Regions from separate parts of the Homo sapiens genome. Here all the other regions are reported to be linked to region 1. The links are microRNA targets in miRTarBase. Many come from high-throughput screens and were not tested one by one. Region 1 holds a microRNA gene; each other region holds the end of a gene's coding sequence.
Evidence for each region. Region 1 holds the annotated microRNA hsa-miR-607 (GUUCAAAUCCAGAUCUAUAAC, at 2,048-2,068, shown strand). A microRNA usually pairs through its seed, bases 2 to 8, with sites in the 3' UTR of a target mRNA and lowers its output. Matches are read on the target gene's strand: a 7mer-m8 pairs with bases 2 to 8, a 7mer-A1 pairs with bases 2 to 7 and ends in A, and an 8mer does both.

Region 1 (5,073 bases):
TGAAACTTCCTTTTTTCGCCGCTAGGTGGTGGGTGTGAGTCTTTTGCGGCCTTTAAGTTTCTACGGTGTTTGGAGGAAATACGTTTCAGTTTCAAATAAATGAACAACGTGTAACTCTAAGATGAGTAAATAATCAATGTGTTTTCCAACCACCCCAAGTTAATTTGTTTAAAAAACAATCAAACCAAGGGTAATAATTCCTCGACATAATCTCTTAGTCCCAGACATATGGATTCAGAGAATCCTAGAGGCTTCAGAGATCAATTTTGTAACTTAAGATATGAAATTGGAAGCCCAGACAAGTAAGGTGATTTGACCAAGATTACATAGTTGCTGGGTAGAGAAAGGGCAACAAAAGCCAGGAGACAAGTTTCCCAATTTCCAATTTAATGCTAGTTTTACTACTCTACTCTGAGTTCCAATTTCTGCTTCACTTATTTTGAGTTGGGAACTAACTCATGGTTGACCTATCACAAAGACCTATTTGGAAGAAAGGATAGGGAGGCAATAGTAACAGCTAATATTCATTGAGCACCTATTATATGTTTATCATTGTTTCATTCCATCCAGATAATAATGCTATGAGTATATATTTACCACATTTTCCAAGTTAGGGACACAAGACTCAGATGAGTTAAATACATTTGTCAAGATCACATAGCTACCAAATTCTAACTAAGATCTCTGTGACTCTAAACCCCTCTAAATTGTCTTACAAGTAGAAAGTTGGCTTGGCGCGGTGGCTCACGCCTGTAATCTCTGCACTTTGGGAGGCTGAAGTGGGCAGATCACTTGAGGTCAGGAGTTCAAGACCAGCCTGGCCAACATGGTGAAACCCCGTCTCCACTAAAAATACAAAAATTAGCTAGGCATGGTGGTGGGCACCTGTAATCCCAGCTACTCAAGAGGCTGAGGCAGGAGAATCCGTTGAACCCAGGAAGTGGAGGTGGCAGTGAGCCGAGATCGTGCCACTGCACTCCAGCCTGGGCGACAGAGCTGAGACTCCATCTTGATAAATAAATAAATAATAAGTAAATAAATAAATAGTCTTACAAGTAGAAAATAGACTCTGCAACTGGAGGATTCACTTAACTCTACATGACATGTTCCGAGCACAGTTAAGCAGTTGGACATTCTGTGTTCCTATCACATGGCAGGCGGTGTCCCAGGCACCGAGGACATAGATAGATAAGACAGAATTTCTGACCTCTGTTGCTTTGGGCTACTGTTAAAGAGGGCCTTAGCTGTAAACTCTTACATTCTAGGGAGGGGCAGGTAATATAACATGGCAGTTAATAGGGTCTGAAGACAGCTGGGTTGGAATTCTGGCTCCATTTTTCAGTGGCTGTGTGACCTTGACATATTAACTTTTCTGGTCATTAATTTCCTCATGTGAAAAAGAGGATAATAATAGTCTGCAAGATGGGGTTTGTGTGAAAATGAAATGAAACTATTCACGTACAGTGCTAGCACATTCTTAGCATGAAATGAGCATCTGTTCTCTGATTAGGCCTTCCTAAGCTCCTATCTGTTTGCCCAGTCTGCAGGATGATGGGAAACCAAGATGCTTCTGCAGTTTGGAGTTAATCTGTGAGAGTATGAAGGAATGATAGCAATGACCTCAGCCTTTGAAAACAACCTCTGAGCCATGTTCTATAGTTCTCACAATGGCAGAAAAGGAATGTCAGGGAAGGGGAGTAGGACTTGGCTTGTCAGCATTAGATCAACTACTACCTGGTGTCTGATTAAAGATGGCTTGCAACATAGAAATGATCATTGACAAATGGGAGGATGAAATGATTGGGGCCTTCTAAAAAAAGCATGTCCTAATGGGAGGCTTTTTTAAAAAAACATAGTCAACTTCAAATAAATTCCAACAAGCAAGAGATGCTTTTTGAAGCACGTTTCAAAGATTATGTTATTTATTCTTCGCAACAACCCAATCGTGTATCCCATTTTATAACAGAGCACAGAGAGGTTAAGTAACTTGCCTAAAGTCACACAGGTTATAGATCTGGATTGGAACCCAGGGAGCCAGACTGCCTGGGTTCAAATCCAGATCTATAACTTGTGTGACTTTGGGCGAGTTACTTAAAGCCGGCTCTTTAACCATCACACTATTTTTTGCTTCCAGTGCTATTTCGGGGAAATGAGACCTAAGTCAGAGACAAGACCTAGCCAGACAGAAAGGAAGCCATGTCACTTGGTCACACGGCTTTTGGTCTTTTTGAGAAACTACTCATGTAGTGGCTTTTTTTGCTTAATAAAAGACTTTCAGGCCGGGCATGGTGGCTCACGCCTGTAATTTCAGCACTTTGGGAGACCAAGCCGGGAGGATCACTTGAGGTCAGGAGTTCGAGACCAGCCTGGACAGCATGGTGAAACACTGTCTCTACCAAAAATACAAAAAAAATTAGCTGGGTATGGGGTGCACCTGTAATCCCAGCTTCTTTGGAGGCTGAAGCAGGAAAATCACTTGAAGCCGGGAAGCAGAGGTTGCAGTGAGCTGATATCATGCCACTGCACTCCAGCCTGGGCAACAAAGCAAGACCCTGTTTCAATAAATAAATAACTTTCAGAGTTTCTCTCTTTTCAGCCTGTATACCTCTATGCCACTGGCCTAGAAAACATGTATGATTTTACTTTATGTTGTACGTGTGACATTTATTTTTCTTCTGTAGTTTTATTGAGATATATTTCACATACCATAAAATTCGCCCATTTGAAGTGTCCACTTCATCTGAAAGCAGGCAGTGGGAGGAGTGGCATCTCTTGGCTTTTTCCTGGGCTCTTGGCTCTGGGTCTTTGGCGCATGTTTTAGCATGGTAGAAATGTTTGACTGTCCCAGCCGGGTGCTGCCTTTCTGCATAAATGAGATCTTTTCTGCCTGGCAACATGGTTTTACCCTCACATCCAAAAGCTCCTAGTTCCTACACAGCTACTGGCTTGTCTGTTTTGAGGCAGTTCCCTTCTTGGAGGTTTCCTTGATATAGCTATGGGTTTGGGTGTCCACTATCCCCATGCCACTAAGCTTGTTCTAGAGTTCAAGACCCATCAACCCCTGCCCCCCAACCACCACCAACTGCGAAAGATTCCTCTTGGGCTCTTTCCCCATTATCTTTTCATCCTACCAGTCAGAAAGGAGGATCATTATTGGAGATCTACTGTTTACTAATATATTGGATGGAGGTGGTGCCCACCCTCTTGGCAGAGGAAAAGATTACAGCTACTAATGCGTCTGACCCCAGCCTGAACCAGTGTTTTAGTATCAAAGGCAAGTGAGACATAGTGTTGCTGTTCATGACCTTGTCCCCAACACAGCCACCTCTGTTTCACCTGCCTTACGTCCAGAAATGCTTTATCCCTACTGTGGAGCAGCTGACTCTGGGGATCCCATGCCAGAATCATGGGGAGATAGACCATGGCCAGGATATATTTCCAGCAGAGAAGCTCTGTCATCTGCAGGATTGCAAGGTGAACCTTCACAGAGCTGCCTGCGGTGAGTGTATTGTTGCACCCAAGACTTCCAGCTTCCCTTACTGTCAGGGGACCTGCCTGACCCTCAACAGTGAGCTTCATCAATCCAACTTTGCACTCAAAGTTTGCACTATAAGAGGGGAGTGCCTATTGATCTGTTCCTGGCTCTTTCAGACCTGTAGTCCCACCAAGGTCATTCTCTTCTCCCTAACGGTCCAGGATGACGAACGTAAGATGAGCGTTCACTGTGTGAACGCATCCTTGATAGAGAAGTGTGGCTGCTCTTGAGACACCCGGGAGCCTCCTCCTGGCTCCATACCCTCCTAAGTCTCGGGACTCAAGTGGGGGGTGGGATTGGTTCCCATAGCAACTAGAGCTCTTTGAAGGGAGGTAGGATTTGGCTTCTGTTTCTCAAAGCACAGCAAGAAGGATGGAGTTATGGCAGTAACCCCTCTTAGATGCTCCTTTTTGACATGGACAGAGGCTCCCCCAGTGCTGTTCTCAGTAACTCCTATTACTGGGAAGCTGAGCCCATTGAGATGTCTGACTATTGCTCTGTCCTAGATTGTGTGAGTGGGCCAGGCTTAGTGCCACCTCTGGAGTTACTTAGATGGAGAAAGAGGAACTGGAATTGGATGCATGTTAGCCCTCAGTGTAGAGGTAAAATTGTTACTGGTGTTAAACAAGGCTGGCTTTGGACTTTTCCAAGCTCGTTAGCTGCCACTGTCCTTCTCTGTACCATAGGACTGGGGCTGGTCCAGAGCTGGCCTAGGCATGTAAATTCCTCCCTACCTAGCATTCCTGGCCTCTTTGGAGTGAGTGAGGGCTCTGTCCAAGGCAGCATTCTGTCATGGGCTAGTTATGGGCAAAGGGCACCAACGCCTTCCCTACCTAGTGTCAGATGGGAGCCTCTGAGTGAAGAACATTGCTCGACAGATTGTTGATGGAGGGGGCTTCTGGCATCAGAAGTCTTTCTTTCTTTTCTTTTCTTTCTTTCTTCTTTCCTTCTTTCCTTCTTTTCTTTCTTTCTTTCTTTTTTTTTTTTTTTTTGAGACAGAGTCTCACTCTATCACACAGGCTGGAGTGCAGTGGCACAATCTCAGCTTTCTGCAACCTCCACCTCCCGGGTTCAAGCAGTTCTCTTGCCTCACCCTCCCAAGTAGCTGGGATTACAGGCACCCACCACCACGCCCAGCCCGGAAGGTTTTCTTACTATCATTTAAGGAACTTGATGATATTAGCTTTTCTACTATCTTTAGAACTTAGTACCATTACAAAATAATAAAAGAATAAAATGTACACTTCAGGGGGTTTTCGTATATTCACAAAGTTGTGCAACCATCACCACAATCACTTTTAGAACATTTCATCACCCCAGAAAGAAACCCTGAAATATCAGCAGTTATTCATCATTCCCCATCTCCTCACCCGCTGGCAACAACAAATCTAGTTTTTTCTTTTTTTTTTTTTTTTTTTTTTTGAGACAGAGTCTCGCTCTGTCGCCCAGGCTGGAGTGCAGCGATGCAATCTCGGCTCACTGCAAGCTCCGCCTCCCGGGTTCACGCCATTCTCCTGCCTCAGCCTCCCGAGTAGCTG
Region 2 (5,073 bases), not on the chromosome of region 1:
CTCCCTCTGCAAGTAATAGCCAGTATTCACTGGGAGTTTACTATGTGCCAAGAGTTTTCTAAGCATTGTACATACATTAAGTCATTTAATTGTCATAACAACCCTACGAGTTTAGTATTCTCTTTAGCGTCTTTTTGCAAGTGAGGAAACTGAGGCACAAAGCCATTCAGGGACAAGCCCAAAGTGACACATCTTATGCTCCTAGGCTGAGGGTAGCCACCATTATCTTGCTTGCCCTTCTGGCCCCAGAGCTGGAAATTTTTATTAGGCTGAAAACATTTGCCATTTCTCCTCACTGGTACACATCAAGGAAATACAATAAAACCTAAGTAAGGCCGGGCACAGTGGCTCAGGCCCGTAATCCCAGCACTTTGGGAGGCCGAGGCGGGCGGATCACTTGAGGTCGGGAGTTCAAGGCCAACCTGGCCAACATGGGGAAACCCCATCTCTACTAAAGATACAAAAATTAGCCGGGCGTGGTGGGTCCCCAGTCATGCTCGGGAGGGAGTAAGGAGCGGGTTTCACCACGCTGTGATGCTGAGCCTTGACTTGCCTGTTCTAGGTTTCATGAGCTACATCGTGGAGCCGCTCTTCCGGGAATGGGCCCATTTCACGGGTAACAGCACCCTGTCGGAGAACATGCTGGGCCACCTCGCACACAACAAGGCCCAGTGGAAGAGCCTGTTGCCCAGGCAGCACAGAAGCAGGGGCAGCAGTGGCAGCGGGCCTGACCACGACCACGCAGGCCAAGGGACTGAGAGCGAGGAGCAGGAAGGCGACAGCCCCTAGGGGCCGGCCCAACTTAGACGCGGCTCTCCTCCGGCAGGGCCCCCAGAGGGCAGAAGCAGCGTGGAGGGGCCCTCACGCAGCAGCCCAGCCACTTTCTGAGTGTTGTCCTGGGGCTCTTTGGAACGCCATCTTCCTCCCACTTACCTGCCTCCCCTCCTTTTCGCAAATGTACAGAAGCCATTTGTCACCTCAGCATTCGCTGCCGAAATGAGCAACTCCATTCAGTAACGTGGGAGCTGATCCCACGGGCAGGCTCTCCCTGCTCCAGGAGAAGACTAGGAGGAAGAATGAGGTGCTCCTGCCGTGTCCGCCTTGTTCCGGGTCGCACTGGAACAGGCAGCAATTCCTAAGTCCGGAGCGTTTGAGCGTTTGCTATCTGACTGCTGATCTGCGTGACAGAAACACCAGCATATTTGCAACGCCAAGGATATTGGTCTTAAGTGCAAGAGCACAAATGAGAGTGTGAGAGAAAGTACCTTCTATTTTAATAATAATATTATTATAAAAATAATAAATCTTTTTAACTTTTATATTTTATGCACTAGACAATGGATCTGCAACTTTGGACTAAGGTCATTCAATGTACCCAAACTTGAACAGGGGGTTCATTGTTTTGCTATTGACTTTATTATGCCACTTTGGGGCAGAGACTTGGCATCTTCGCAGTTTAAGAAACCACGTTTCCTATCCAATCCGAAGGGAAGGTGCTGTACAGTTCATTCCTTTGCACCATTAGCCAATCTGTCTTTTATGGATTCTGTGACATGTTTATATTCACCCATGTACATTTTCTGTAAATACCAAACGCTACTGATTCCCATGCCAAAATACATGAGTATTATGGGATTGCTACCTGTATAAACAATGGCACTGTGAAAATACTGTTAGTTTTAATACAAGAGAATGCATTTGTAAATATGGTATAGAGTTTATTAATATACTATTGTTTGCAGATAAAGGCCTTAACTTTAAACATCTTTCATCTTCTGAAAGCTGCCCAACTTAAATCCTCATAGATGTCTTTCTCAACTGCCTTCCCATGTTCATCTGTATGTTTTCCAGCTAAGGTCACAAACCAAAACTGAATAAAGTCTTTGAGGAAACATTTTGGAAACTTCACATGCATTCCGCTTGAGACCATAGTGTTTAATCTATGGCACCAAGCATCGTTTCCTCAGATTAATGAGACCCTTCAACAAGCCTGAATCAGTCACTTTTCAACACAGCGATGTTTTAACAAGCCAGCTGCTAAGCTTGTGTTTATGTGACTCTTGTTACAGATCATGGCGGTGCGTCAGCCTCACAGGAGACATAGCAGGTCTCAGAAACCTTCTATGACCCTGTCATCTAACCATCAGGGAATTCCCTGCTCCCATGCCACACATTTGTCTATTATGGCTATAGTACCAAAGTACTTTTGGTGTTTGGTTGGTGTGCATTTCTTTAGTGTCGATAGTAACTGGATTTTTCTTTTTCCTTAATCTCATGTGAACAACTACCCAACTGTTTAGCTGAAGTTCATATTATTTAAGTAAAGAAAATATTTCAGTTTTATAACAGACTTTACCTTCCTGGCAGGTCATTGTAGTTAATTATGTCTCTAGCTTGGAGTGTCACCTTGGAATTTCGTTGCCATTTTTTCTCAGACACCTGGCCGTAAAATCAGTTTGTTACAGCATTCTTCTCTAGGCTGCTAAACGCTGTGCATTGAACCTTTTCTTTAGAAGTTTCAGCGTAACTAATGTTAGATGAAAATTGTTGATGCCCCTTTCTTTTTACTTTAAACAATGTGGTAGTGGGAGAATGACTGTTTCTGCCACTATCAACCTGATCCTCATGCTGATAGAATGACAGCTAGCACTTATTTCCTAAGTGCAACTGTTTTAGAGATTTTTCTCCTAACATGCAAAGGAAATACTGATTGGCCTATAATAAGTTCCTATAGGGAGACTGAGGCTTGCAGAATTAAGGTTCAGGGGAAATTTTGGAAAGTTGGTTGTATTTTCATTGAAGTAGGAGAGATTATCAGATGGTGCTAAAGAAAGTGTGAAGATCTTATGAAATAGGTGGATGGTAAGTTGAAATTATTGATGTGGGTAAGAAGGGAGGTTGTGGAAAGTTAACACTAGCTTTGTATTTTTTTTTCTGTAAAACTGTGAACTGATATATTTTCCTTTATCACTTTAGTATTCTGCAGTTCTCAGCTTGGTGAGGCTCCAAAAGAGAATATGTCAGATGTATTCCTACTTCCAAACCTGTCTTACTTTGGTTTGATGGTACACATAGGGCTTTTGAACAGTCTATTTTTAATGTATATGAGGTCAAATCAAGGAAGGCAATTGCTGGGGACAAGAAAAGTAGAGGTAGGAAAGAAGACACTATTTTAGCTAATGGGGTTTCTTGGGACTAAAAAATGGCTTTGTTTAAATTATAATTATATAATAATTTAAATAAATGAGATTGGAGGTATTCTTAGTAGTTCTGAGTTGATAGTTTACATTACAATTAGGTCTTGAAGAAGAGCTCACAGAGAAAAAACTACCAAATATCCAATGGGTAAGCCCATGATGTAGCCACTAGTACAATAAAAATCTGAAGTAAAATGAGGCATAAACTTGATGCAGCTGCCTCCCTCATTCAACTGGGGAGTTCTTGAGTTCCTCATTTGTTGGTAAAAAGAAAAAGAATGTGAAAATGTCTCTTTTTTTCTTGGCTATTAGTGGCTGTCTTGCAATATTTCAATAGGAGTCCAATTACTAGTTAAAACACTGGCGGGGTGCGGTGGCTCACGCCTGTAATCCTAGCACTTTGGGAGGCCAAGTTGGGCAGATCACAAGTTCAAGAGATCGAGACCATTCTGGCCAACATGGTGAAACCCCGTCTCTACTAAAAATACAAAAATTAGCTGGGCATGGCAGTGCGTGCCTGCAATCCCAGCTACTCAGGAAGCTGAGGCAGGAGAATCGCTTGAACCTGGGAGGTGGAAGTTGTAGTGAACTGAGATCGCACCACTGCACTCCAGCCTGGCAACAGAGCTAGAATCCGTCTCAAACAAACAAACAAAAAATCCCACAGCTATTGGATCATCCACAGATTTTTTCTTTACAATCTTGTTCTCCTTGTCCATGGACCATCAATAGTTGACTTGCCAGGTTTAATTCTTTCATTGCTTGAGAAGAAAGGAATCAAAGGACTGTGTGTAGTAAGCTGACGGTAAAGTTAAGATTAAATTAAGACAGAGAGAGAATACATATCACTGCCAGGCCTGATAGGAAAAATCTGCTCTTCCTTTTAATAACAGTGATGAATTGTCAGGACCTTATTTAGGAAACCCTGACCTACCCATAACTCCCTGCTAGGCTAAGTAGAAACCAGGTTATTTCTCCCTGCTTATGGCTCCCCGCAAAGGGACTTGCAGCGTGTCCTGCAACTTTGTCTTCAGATAGTGCTTCCTACAAAACTAGGTCTTGTTTTGTAATCTTTTCTCGTGTTGAATCAGATCTGCTTACTTATTTAGGTTTGGTTATGAGCTTGTATCTCACTGTATTTCTCATGCTTTGTTCTTTTAAACAAATCCTTTAAACTGTGTCATTTTGTATACACATGTGAGGTTTGAAAAAAAAAAAAAAAAAAAAAAGAACTACCTTGTGAGTTTTGCTCAAAATGTGGCCTAAGTAGCCATTGGCATGTCTAGATGAACAAATAAAAATAAAGATAATTTCTTTAAAATATCACAAGATGAAAATATCCTAATTCTCACCAGGTAACATGTTACCAGTCAATGAATTGGATTCAATAAAAGGATCCCACTGCTCAGGAGAGGAAACATTCGAGGAAAGAACACAGATGCAAACATGGCCCACGTGACTCATTCCACTTTGGGGGCTACAGAAACGCCCATGTCCATGAAGGTATCACCTGCTCGTTAGTGCCAAGTTAGGGAAACAGGGCCACCATTCAGCTTTACATTTCCCCAGAGTCCTGATATTTTTCTGACTCATATTTGTCAAACTCATATGAATGAGAATGAGGTACAATGTTTTAAGTTGTAAAAACATAGCCAACTCAGGGCAAGAATTATTTGTGAAAAATATGGTCTCACATTTCAGGATTACTGGCCATGAAGAACAATAGAACAGTTCAGGCAGAACTGTTCTATTCTAAATCTGGTATTCTAAATCCATCTGGAAATAGAGAAGAAGAAGAACACTGCCAATGTTTCCAATGTTTTCTTGTATCTTTATGTATTCTCCCATATTCATTTTATTAAGATCTGTGTTCAGA
Region 3 (5,073 bases), not on the chromosome of region 1:
ACAATTTTCTTTTCTTAAGATCTACAACTCTTGAAAAAGAAGTTCCTGTCATCTTCATCCACCCTTTAAACACTGGATTATTCCGGATAAAAATTCAAGGAGCCACTGGAAAATTTAATATGGTCATCCCTCTTGTGGATGGGATGATTGTCAGCAGGCGAGCTCTTGGTAAGGTCTTCATATGTGGCCGAAGAGTTAAATTTTCTTTTTCTTTATCATTTTTATAAACCAAAAAGAAGTAAAAATAAGGAAATGGTGATAATTAATAGCTTCCACATGTAGGAAATGGTATGGCTCTTGTTAAAAAGGGAGCATGTTTCGTTCTTTTTAAATCTGTCCTTAATCTAGTAAGTGTAAGTAAAACCTCACTAACTTCTAGTATTAAAATATTGAAGATAGCTGTTTGTAATCCAGGACAGAAAATAGGTTTTTAGAATAGATTTTGATTCTCCTTTTCCTTGTCATTGTGTGTTTCTTCTGACAGTTTTATCTTAGCACTATGTCTATCTCTCTGGGGATGGGAAGTTTGCAAATTGAATGAAATAGTTTTGAGTATGCGGAGAATAGTTCACCTGAATACTTACAGTTCACCTACGTAAGTGACTAGTTTCTAACGTTTATTTTAAAACTCTCTATTTTCAAGGCTTTCTGGTGAGGCAGACTGTAATTAACATTTGTAGAAGAAAGAGACTGGAAAGTGACTCCTACAGTCCCCCCCATGTCCGCCGGAAACAGAAAATCACCGACATTGTCAACAAGTACCGGAACAAGCAGCTGGAGCCAGAGTTTTATACTTCACTTTTCCAGGAGGTTGGACTCAAGAACTGCAGTTCTTAGACCACTGAATTTCTAAGACTGTTGAACTCCAGTTTGGGAACTATAACACAGCAGAACAGTTTGATAGGTGATCACTGTAAAAATAAAAACAAATCACTCCCAAGAGCTTACTGTTTAATCACCAGAATAGAAGAAACACATTATAACCCATTTGATAGAAGACTTTGGGCTATCTAGTGAAATGGGCTCCCAGACACAATCACACTCCTGCTGATAATGATGATATACATTTTAGCCATAAACTTTCTTTTAAAAGTGACAATTTTAGTTAAACATAAGCCTTTTGAGGAGAAAGGCTTTTATGCATCTCAGTTAAACACGTGCATTGGTAGTATCAACAAATTTGCAATATAGAAGTTGAAGATAGTTTTTTACCTCACTTTTTAGGAGGTTGTATTCAAAATTAAAATCTCAGAATCTTACAGGACATTTAAAGACTCATGTTGATAGCATGGAGGAGAAGGAAAGAAGTCACAGCCTTCTACTCAGTTGTAGGTCTTCTTGTCATCCAGCTGTCACACTGACAAAAAGAAAAGATGATACATGTTTTTTGCTCAGATAAGAAGCCTGACATTAAAAGATGTCATATTTTTTTCTCCACATTTCAAAAAGTTGTCCTTCTCATCACTGCACAGATCTGTCTGAAAGCCTCAGTTTCTGAGTGACCCAGGAACAGATCAGAAATGGAGCATGGCCTTGTCCTTTAATGGGGATGCAAATAAAGTTTGTGGGGTTAAAAGTTATAAGACAGCAGTGATACCCCACTCTCTCCATTATTGTCCAGCGGGGTGACATAATGACAGGTTAAATATTTGTGATTCATTGATTAAATATTATTTAAAGAAATGTAAATTCACAATAAGGGTTGAAAATTATTTGGTTTCATCCATTGTCTCTTATTTCAGGACCAAGCAGCAAACTGCAGTAGTTTGTGAAGGATTCTAATATGGGGTTCAGGAATAGCCTCTCAACGCTACTAATTCAGATCTCTCCCAGAGAACTACTGGATTTCCTCATAATTGACAAACATGAGTGACCACCTCTTTGGGTGGCTACTGTTAGAAATGGCTGTTGTCATGTTTTCTGGACTTTGCCAGCCAACAGATCCCTGCCAGGTTTTGGAAATACTTCTATTACCTCGCTGCTACTTTTCTGCAGGGATAAAACTTTTGAGGTGGCCAGACCCAGAACATCCAAGGATTCCTGTTACAGTGCTACAGTATACACTGCTCATTTATCCTATTCTCATGTGCTTTCTTCTTTAGTAAGATTATTTTAAGAAAATAAGTGATATTTAAAGTCCAAAGAGGAATGATCACAGTTGTATAAGGGGTGTTTTCCCACTTGAACTCTGATGTCAGTCGACTGTGGGTCAGAGCTACAACCATCTGTTTGGTTTGATGTTTTGGTGGTTTACTTACGGAGTGGGGATAGTGTGAGACCTAATTCCCTGTGCAAATGTCTCTTATTCCAGAAATGTGCATTTTGTCATCTATAAGCAAGAAATATGGGCATAGCAGCTCTTGGTTTAAAGTTTGCCATAACCTGTTCATGTTTGTTTTAAGCTCAGGTAAAGATAACCTCCTCTTTCTATGACTCCAGTTTCCATTCAGGTTATAGTATTATTCAATAGTTGATTTTCTTTTTAAGCTGGGCAATAAATTGATGTTTCCAGATGGTAACATGGGAGAGGGCATATAGGATAAAGATGAGCAAATTCTACCCTAAAAATGTTCTAGTAGTTCACAGGAAGAAGATGAGGTTTAATAACTTTCAAGGTAATTCTAGATTGACATTTTGAGGGGAAAATGGGCTCTTGTTCTAGTTGAAGTGAGCAGAGAAGGCTATAAATTAATATGTAACTTACAGCATTCCAGAGGTTAAAAATAACTGATGCAGATGTACTTCTTCAGTGTGATTCTTCAGATCAAACTTTTACTTTTGGCATAGTTAATTTCAGAAAAATGTGCTGTATGTGTGTGTGTATGAGGGTTGGTCTTGCTGATCCTTCAGTTAGCTCTAAATTCTGGCAACTCCTTGTAATTCCAATGTATTTGATACATGAACAATCATGTTGAATGCATTTGTGATCTGGGAGACTTCCTCGTCTTCCAGGGAAGGAAGGATGTGCAGCCCCTGAAGGCATGAAACTCCCAGTGTGTACGGAGCCAGTGGAATATGGGATACCCATACCTTACCAGGCGCTGGTTCCTTCTGCTCACAATAACATCTGCCCAAAGAGGGAGTGGGAAGAACGCTTAGCTCTTTCACTAGTATGGATTTGAGTTCATGGTCACTATTTTTACCCACCTGCCTTTGTTAAAAATCACTTTGAGTAGAATAGCACTGGAGGAACATATTTAGCACCTAATATTAATATTTAGTAGTCCATTGATAAATTTGCCAGCATATGTTCTAGCCTCTGGGGGGAAACCAGGACCACTTTTGTCTGTGGCTTAAACAGTTCAGTTGCTATATCTGTTGGGTATGCCGGGGGTGGATGAGTGTGGCATTCCGTGAAGAGGAAGGTGGTAAGTAAGGTTTCCCTTCTACTGCCTTCTTAAGTTGCAGGAGGGAGCTTTTCTCCTCCCCTCTGGTTGGGAGCACTGAGGACAGTGAGGAGGGCTTTTACCTTGTTAATCCTTTCCTTATTTAGCTAGCTTTCCTTTTTGTCTAGGGCTTCCTCTTGAGACCCTCTTCCATCCATTGGGCCTTTGAAAGGACTAATCAGACACACACACACACACACACACACACACACACACTCGCATACTCATGCACATTTTCCTTCATTTCCAGATCCTTTATTTCAGAGCAGCCCATTTTCCTCTGGATTCATTGATGAATACAAGTACCCACACCTTTGGCCAGTAATGTCAGTTACCTGCTGCAGGTTCTGTGTATGAGGCCTTCATGAACGGTTACCTTCTCCATACACTAGGGAAGCATTTGTCAGACTCTGCAGACTGGGTTCTAGAGAGGCAGAGTCTTTAAGAGTATTCATTTCTTCTGGAAGGTGGAGCTTTACCCAAAGTGGAAGTTAGCCTTGCTCAAAGATGTGTTTTGTGGTAGGTGGTAAAAATAAATAAATAAATAAATAATAAAAAAAGAAACATGTATTGGAGGTAATTTGACACTGCTGCTGGCAGTAGTTCTCTATTCACCATTTTAAAGCCCATTCAGGTTCTCTCTTCCTGAAAAGAACTGATTGCTGTGTTTACATGAAATGACATTGGAGTCAGATGGTCTGTTTTAAAGATTTCCATGACAGCCTCTTTTCCTGAGTTGGAGAGATTGGAGGTGGTCTATCCGTACGATGTGGAATCAAACGGTGGGTTTCTTAGTAGCTAAAGAAGCCATGTACTTCTAGTGTGTTTCTCAGAATATCAACTCATGTTCTTCAGATGCTTTTCTTTTTTTAATGGTGAGGGAAAAGGTATAATTTGGGATTCCACAGTGCCTTGCATATAGTAGGCGCCCAGTAAATACTTGTTGAAGCAAACCAAGTTTCCCAAGTCCTCATCTCTTATAGTGACCAAGACATCTTTCTCCTCTGAAGGGCTTGGCAGTTGTGGCTAAAAAATAAGCAGTATCATTATTTGCTTGAAATCATATATACAGTTTGTATGAATTTCAGTATGTTGCCAAGACATGATTTTTTCTTATTGTATTTTCTGTAAATATTTCTGGCACTGAACTGTAAAGTAAAGGCAAAGTGTAAATATGAAGGCGTGCCCGTGCCCCTTGCCTCCTGTGTTTCATCTTCGTCGGTTAGGGAAGAAGGTCCAGAGGTTTGTTTGTATTTATGCCGATCCTTTGTCCAGAAGAAGCCCATGGAATATTGAATGTAATACATTTAGTCAATTAAATTTTAAGGAGATTCTTATCTAATAACTTTGTGTGTGCTTTTGGATACAGGCTGAGGCTTTACTCCTACACTGGTGCTGTTAATTTTACCCTTTCAGGGGATGTCTGCTCGGCTTTGGCTGCCCTTTATAATTTAGATCTGTAGTTTAAATGAACATTAAATGAGTATTTCATGAAATACTCAAAGTTTGATTAATTTTAAGAAAAGTATTTGGCCTTCTCTGCTGGAAGGAGCTTGTATAATTAAAACACTGCCAATAGAGGCTCACCTTTCAGGGGCTGCGAATTGCTGAGGAGATAGATGCTTATGTTACGGGAGCAAGAAAGTGCCAGCTGTGCCCTCTGCTTGCAGAAAATTTGAGCCCTAGT
Region 4 (5,073 bases), not on the chromosome of region 1:
GAGTGTAAAGATTGCGGGAAAGCTTTCATTCAGAAGTCAAACCTCATCAGACACCAGAGAACTCACACAGGAGAGAAGCCCTTTGTATGTAAGGAGTGTGGAAAAACCTTCAGTGGCAAATCCAACCTTACTGAGCATGAGAAAATCCATATTGGAGAGAAGCCTTTTAAATGTAGTGAATGTGGAACAGCCTTTGGCCAGAAGAAGTACCTCATAAAACATCAGAACATTCACACTGGAGAGAAACCCTATGAATGTAACGAATGTGGAAAAGCCTTCTCTCAGCGAACATCACTTATTGTACATGTGAGGATTCATTCAGGTGATAAACCTTACGAATGCAATGTTTGTGGAAAAGCCTTCTCTCAGAGCTCATCTCTCACTGTGCATGTGAGAAGCCATACAGGGGAGAAGCCCTATGGTTGTAATGAATGTGGGAAAGCTTTCTCTCAGTTCTCAACCCTTGCTCTGCATTTGAGAATACACACAGGTAAGAAGCCTTATCAGTGCAGTGAATGTGGGAAAGCTTTCAGCCAGAAGTCACACCACATTAGACACCAGAAAATTCATACTCACTAAAAACCCCATGAAAGCCTTGAAAGTGGGAAAGCTTTCATTAGAAATTTGCACCTCATCATGCCCCAGAAATAATCCTTCTGAAGCAAAGCACCACGAATGAGGTTAACTTTAACAAGTACTAAAAACTTAAGGGACACCAGAAAATTTGTACTGAAGAGAAAGACATGCATATGATTAAAACCCTGTGTCCAACAGAGAAACCTGCAGCAGAGATAATGGTGAAAGTTTAGGCACATTTTCACTAAAAGTGGGAACAGAAAATGGAGGCCTGTTTTTTATTGCTACCACCATAGATCTGGAGATCTTCGCCAGTAACAAGAAAAATTAAGTTGTAAATATTGGAAAGGAACAGACAAAAATAGATGACATGGTCATCTACAACTAATATTAAGACTCCTGTGGTATTGATTGAGCAGAGCAGAAGAGATTTCAAAAAAAGACCTATGCATTTATTAGAATTTGGAATATGATACAAGTGGCATCAGGAAATGAGGAAATAATGGAACTATTTTTTTTAAGTGGAGGTAGTTTGTTCTCCAAGGGGGAAAAATAGACCATGAACTATACACAAAAGTGAATCCAGAGATTAAAAACAGAAATATGGAAAAGCTATGTACTAAAATGCATATGACCTTGGGAATAGGGAAACATTCCTTGGAACAATTTGAGAAATACTTAGCGGTTCTACTTATGAGTATGAATGCTCAGGAAATACGCACTAGGATATTTACTGTGGCTTGATTTGTAGTAGCCAAAAATTAGAAACAACTGAGAAAGCCCATCACGAACAATATGGGAAATTCTTATGTAATACTATATATCTGTAAAATGCAACAAATGAAATCCACATGTATTAACAGAAAGATCCCAGAATTGTTGAGGGGGGATCAAGTTGCAGAATGATACAGATAGTACAATGACTTTTTTGTAAATTTGAATTAAAAGTTTCCTCATAAAACTCAGTACTATCTATTGGTAATGGATGCATATATGTATGTACATGTTTTTGAAACGGATTGGAAGGATACAGACCAAACTCTTGATAGTGGTCACCTGTGAAGAGTGGAGAAGGGAAAATAATGAGTGTGGGAGGTGGGATGGGTATTGGTTAAAGGGGACTTCAGCTTTTTATATAAACATCCACTTCTCTTTCAAAAGACTTCAAGTAAATATAAGAAGATACTGATTGATTCTGGATTGTGGTATAGGGATATCTTGTCTTATTTTTTGTACTTTTCTGTATTTTTAAAATTTCTCAAAATAGGAATGGGAGTGAGGATGGGAATGCTGTATCTGTGGAAGTCATGTTATACTGGATTCATTTCCAATTAAATACTAAACATTTTATAGAAAATATTTCTAAAATTTTATCACGGATGAATGGATGGACTTGCTCTCTATGTAATATGAAATTAATCTATTTTATTAAAATTTAAAAGGACAGCACAATCCAAATCTGTTTTAATTATTTTAACATGGCATACACACTATATCGGGGTCCCCAGCTCCCCCCAGCTGCATGGCAGGAGGTGAGTGGCGGGTGAGCGAGCATTGCCACCTGAGCTCCACCTCCTGCCAGATCAGCGGTGGCATTAGTTCTCATAGGAGCGCGAACCCTATTGGGAACTGTGCATGTGAGGAATCCAGGTTGTGCGCTTCTTATGAGAATGTAACGCCTGATGATCTGAGGTGGAACAGTTTCATCCTGAAAACATCCCATCCCCATTCTTCTACCCCCACAAACCGTCCGTGGAAAAATTGTCTTCCATGAAACAGGTCCCTGGTACCAAAAAGGTTGGGGACCGCTGCACTATATGATCTCTGTCTTCGTATTTCTAACATTTTGCAGAATGAGCTTAGAAAACTTTAACTTTTTCTTTGTTCATACATGCACAGGCTTCATATAATTGGTCTTTTTCAGTTAGGCTGATTTTGGAATGTCAGTTTTCCTCTCCTGCATATTTCCATGGGAAACGTGTGCATTAAATATTAAATTTTTGATAATATCTTTTTTTTTTTTTTTCCCATCTTGCTCTGTTGCCCAGGCCAGAATACCATGGCAGGATCTTGGCTCACTGCAATCTCCTCTGCTTACTGGGCTCAAGCAGTCCTCCGACCTCAGCCTCCCAAGTAGCTGGGACTACAGGCACGCACCACTATGCTGTGCCAATTAAAAAAAAAAAATTGTAGCGATGGGGTCTCCGTATATTGCCCAGATTAGTCCCAAACTCCTGGGGTGAAGTGATTCTCCATGGCCTGTTCAAGTGCTGCCATTACATTACAGGTATGAGTCACCATGCCCAGCTAATTTTATTTTTAAAAAGAGAAAACAACTTCCCATAACTTCCACAGTTCAGTGCATTAGATACCAACACCTGCGTGTCTGTCTTAACCTGCGAGCTCTGTCACTCCTCCCACTGCTGTTACAGAGAGAGAATGGGACGGGTATGAGAAAAATGGCTCAGACCCTAGACAGAGTTCTATTTTGTAAACCAGCCCTTCATGAAAATTTTTTTATTCTTTGATCACATTATAATATAAAGAATATTATTAAAGGTTTTCTTGAATAATGGTGAATGTCAATAATATACAGCATTTGAGCTTGATTTTGAAACCTTAAAAAACTCATTAAATGGCACTGCATCACTGTATCTTTTAGCCTTTTTGGAGGAATTAGATACTTAAATGTCTAAATGAATCTGCCCTTTATATTATGATGTACCCCATCTTTTTCTCTGTTTTCCCTGTTTGCACATATATTTCACATTTAAAGGTGTTGTCTTTATGATACAGTTGGCCCTCTGTATCCATGGGCTCTGCATCCATTTATCAACGAACCCTGGATGGAAAGTGTTTAAAATATACAACAATTTTAAAAATACAAATGTTAATATACAACTATTTGGATAGCATTTACATTGTATTAGGTATTATGACTAATCTAGAGATGATTCTAGCTAGGCATGTGCCACACATCTGTAGTCCCAGCCACTTGGGAGGGTGAGCTGGGAGGATTGCTTGAGCCCAGGAGTTTGAGGCTGCAGTCAGCCGTGATTGCACCACTATATTGCAGCCTGGGTGACAGAGACCCTGTCGAAAACAAACAAAACCAGGAGGAAAAACACAGGGATGGAGACAGATCAGTGGGAAGAGAATTGAGAGTCCACAAATGCTATGGGTTGAATGTCCCACCCAAAACTCAATGTTGAAATTTAATTGCCATGGTAATGGCATGAAAGGTTGAGACCCTTAAAATGGCCATGAAGGGGCTGGTCGTGGTGGCTCACACCTGTAATCTCAGCACTCTGGGAGGCCGAGGCGGGTGGATCACCTGAGGTCACGAGTTCAATACCAGCCTGGCCAACATGGCAAAACCCCGTCTCTACTAAAATTACAAAAATTAGCCGGGTGTAGTGGCACACACCTGTAATCCCAGCTACTTGGGAGGCTGAGGCAGGAGAATTGCTCCAACCCAGGAGGCAGAGGTTTGCAGTGAGCCAGGATCGTGCTACTGCACTCCAGCCTGGGAGACAGAATGAGACTCTATCTCAAAAAAAAAAAAAAAGATGTCCATGAAGTCTCCACTTTCATGAGTAGGATTGGTGTCATGATAAAAGGGCAAGTTTTGTCCCCACTTGCTGTCTCTTGTCTTTCCTCCATGGGATGACATAACAAGAAGGCCCTTGCCAGATGTCAGTCTCTCAGTTGTGGACTTCCCAGCCTCCAGAACTGTGTACCAATATGTTCTTGTTCCTTATACGTTAACCAGACTCAGGTATTCTGTTATACCAACACAAATCAATTGATACACTGTGGGCAACTGATTTTCAACTAGAATGCCAAACTTATTTAATGGAGGAAAGAATAATTCCCTTAAAAAATGATGTCGGGGGCAGTGGCTCACGCCTGTAATCCCAGCACTTTGGGAGGCCAAGGCGGGCGGATCACAAGGTCAGGAGTTCGAGACCAGCCTGGCCAGCATGGCAAAACCCCGCCTCTACTAAAAATACAAAAATTAGCCAGATGTGGTAGCGGGGGCCAGTAATCCCAGCTACTTGGGAGGTTAAGGCAGGAGAATCGCTTGAACCCAGGAGGCAGAGGTTGCAGTGAGCCGAGATCGTGCCGTTGAACTCCGGCCTGGGTGACAAGAGCAAGACTCTGTATTAAAAAAAAAAAAAAAAAAAGTGTTGGGGCCGTGCGCAGTGGCTCACGCCTGTAATCCCAGCACTTTGTGAAGCGGAGGCGGGTGGATCACCTGAGGTCAGGAGTTCAAGATCAGCCTGGCCAACATGGTGAAACCCTGTCTACTAAAAATACAAAAAATTAGCTGGGCGTGGTAGTGGACACCTATCATCCCAGTACTTTGGGAGGCTGAGCTAGGAGAATCGCTTGAACCCAGGAGGTGGAGGTTGCAGTGAGCTGAGATTGTGCCACTGCACTCCAGCCTGGCAAGAAGAGTGTCAAAAAAAAAAAAAAAAAAAAAAGCTGGGACAA

Region 2: miRTarBase lists PDE7B as a target of hsa-miR-607. Seed matches in the 3' UTR shown: 7mer-A1 at 4,401-4,407.
Region 3: the mRNA of RALGAPB is a reported target of hsa-miR-607. Seed matches in the 3' UTR shown: 7mer-A1 at 3,551-3,557.
Region 4: miRTarBase lists ZNF146 as a target of hsa-miR-607. Seed matches in the 3' UTR shown: 7mer-m8 at 1,511-1,517 and 7mer-A1 at 1,585-1,591.

What each region holds. Positions count from the first base shown.
Region 1 is chr10:96,825,679-96,830,751 of GRCh38, reverse strand. It overlaps MIR607 (microRNA 607), which reads left to right and starts at 1,988; the gene lies at 1,988-2,083. It overlaps LOC102723665 (a long non-coding RNA gene), which reads left to right. Exons shown (of 1, transcript NR_135921.1): 1 at 1-120. RefSeq lists a cis regulatory region at 1-106.
Region 2 is chr6:136,191,052-136,196,124 of GRCh38, forward strand. PDE7B (phosphodiesterase 7B) reads left to right here. Exons shown (of 13, transcript NM_018945.4): 13 at 563-4,523. The coding sequence ends at 789. Among named protein-coding and RNA genes, the nearest start is that of MTFR2, 57 kb to the right of the region's middle.
Region 3 is chr20:38,574,131-38,579,203 of GRCh38, forward strand. It overlaps RALGAPB (Ral GTPase activating protein non-catalytic subunit beta), which reads left to right. Exons shown (of 30, transcript NM_020336.4): 29 at 20-168; 30 at 644-4,728. The coding sequence ends at 837. Among named protein-coding and RNA genes, the nearest start is that of ADIG, 4.5 kb to the right of the region's middle. RefSeq lists a silencer at 3,602-3,802.
Region 4 is chr19:36,236,741-36,241,813 of GRCh38, forward strand. It overlaps ZNF146 (zinc finger protein 146), which reads left to right. Exons shown (of 4, transcript NM_007145.3): 4 at 1-2,028. The coding sequence ends at 579. It also overlaps a transcript of ZNF565 not described here. Among named protein-coding and RNA genes, the nearest start is that of ZNF146, 24 kb to the left of the region's middle. RefSeq lists a silencer at 4,144-4,344.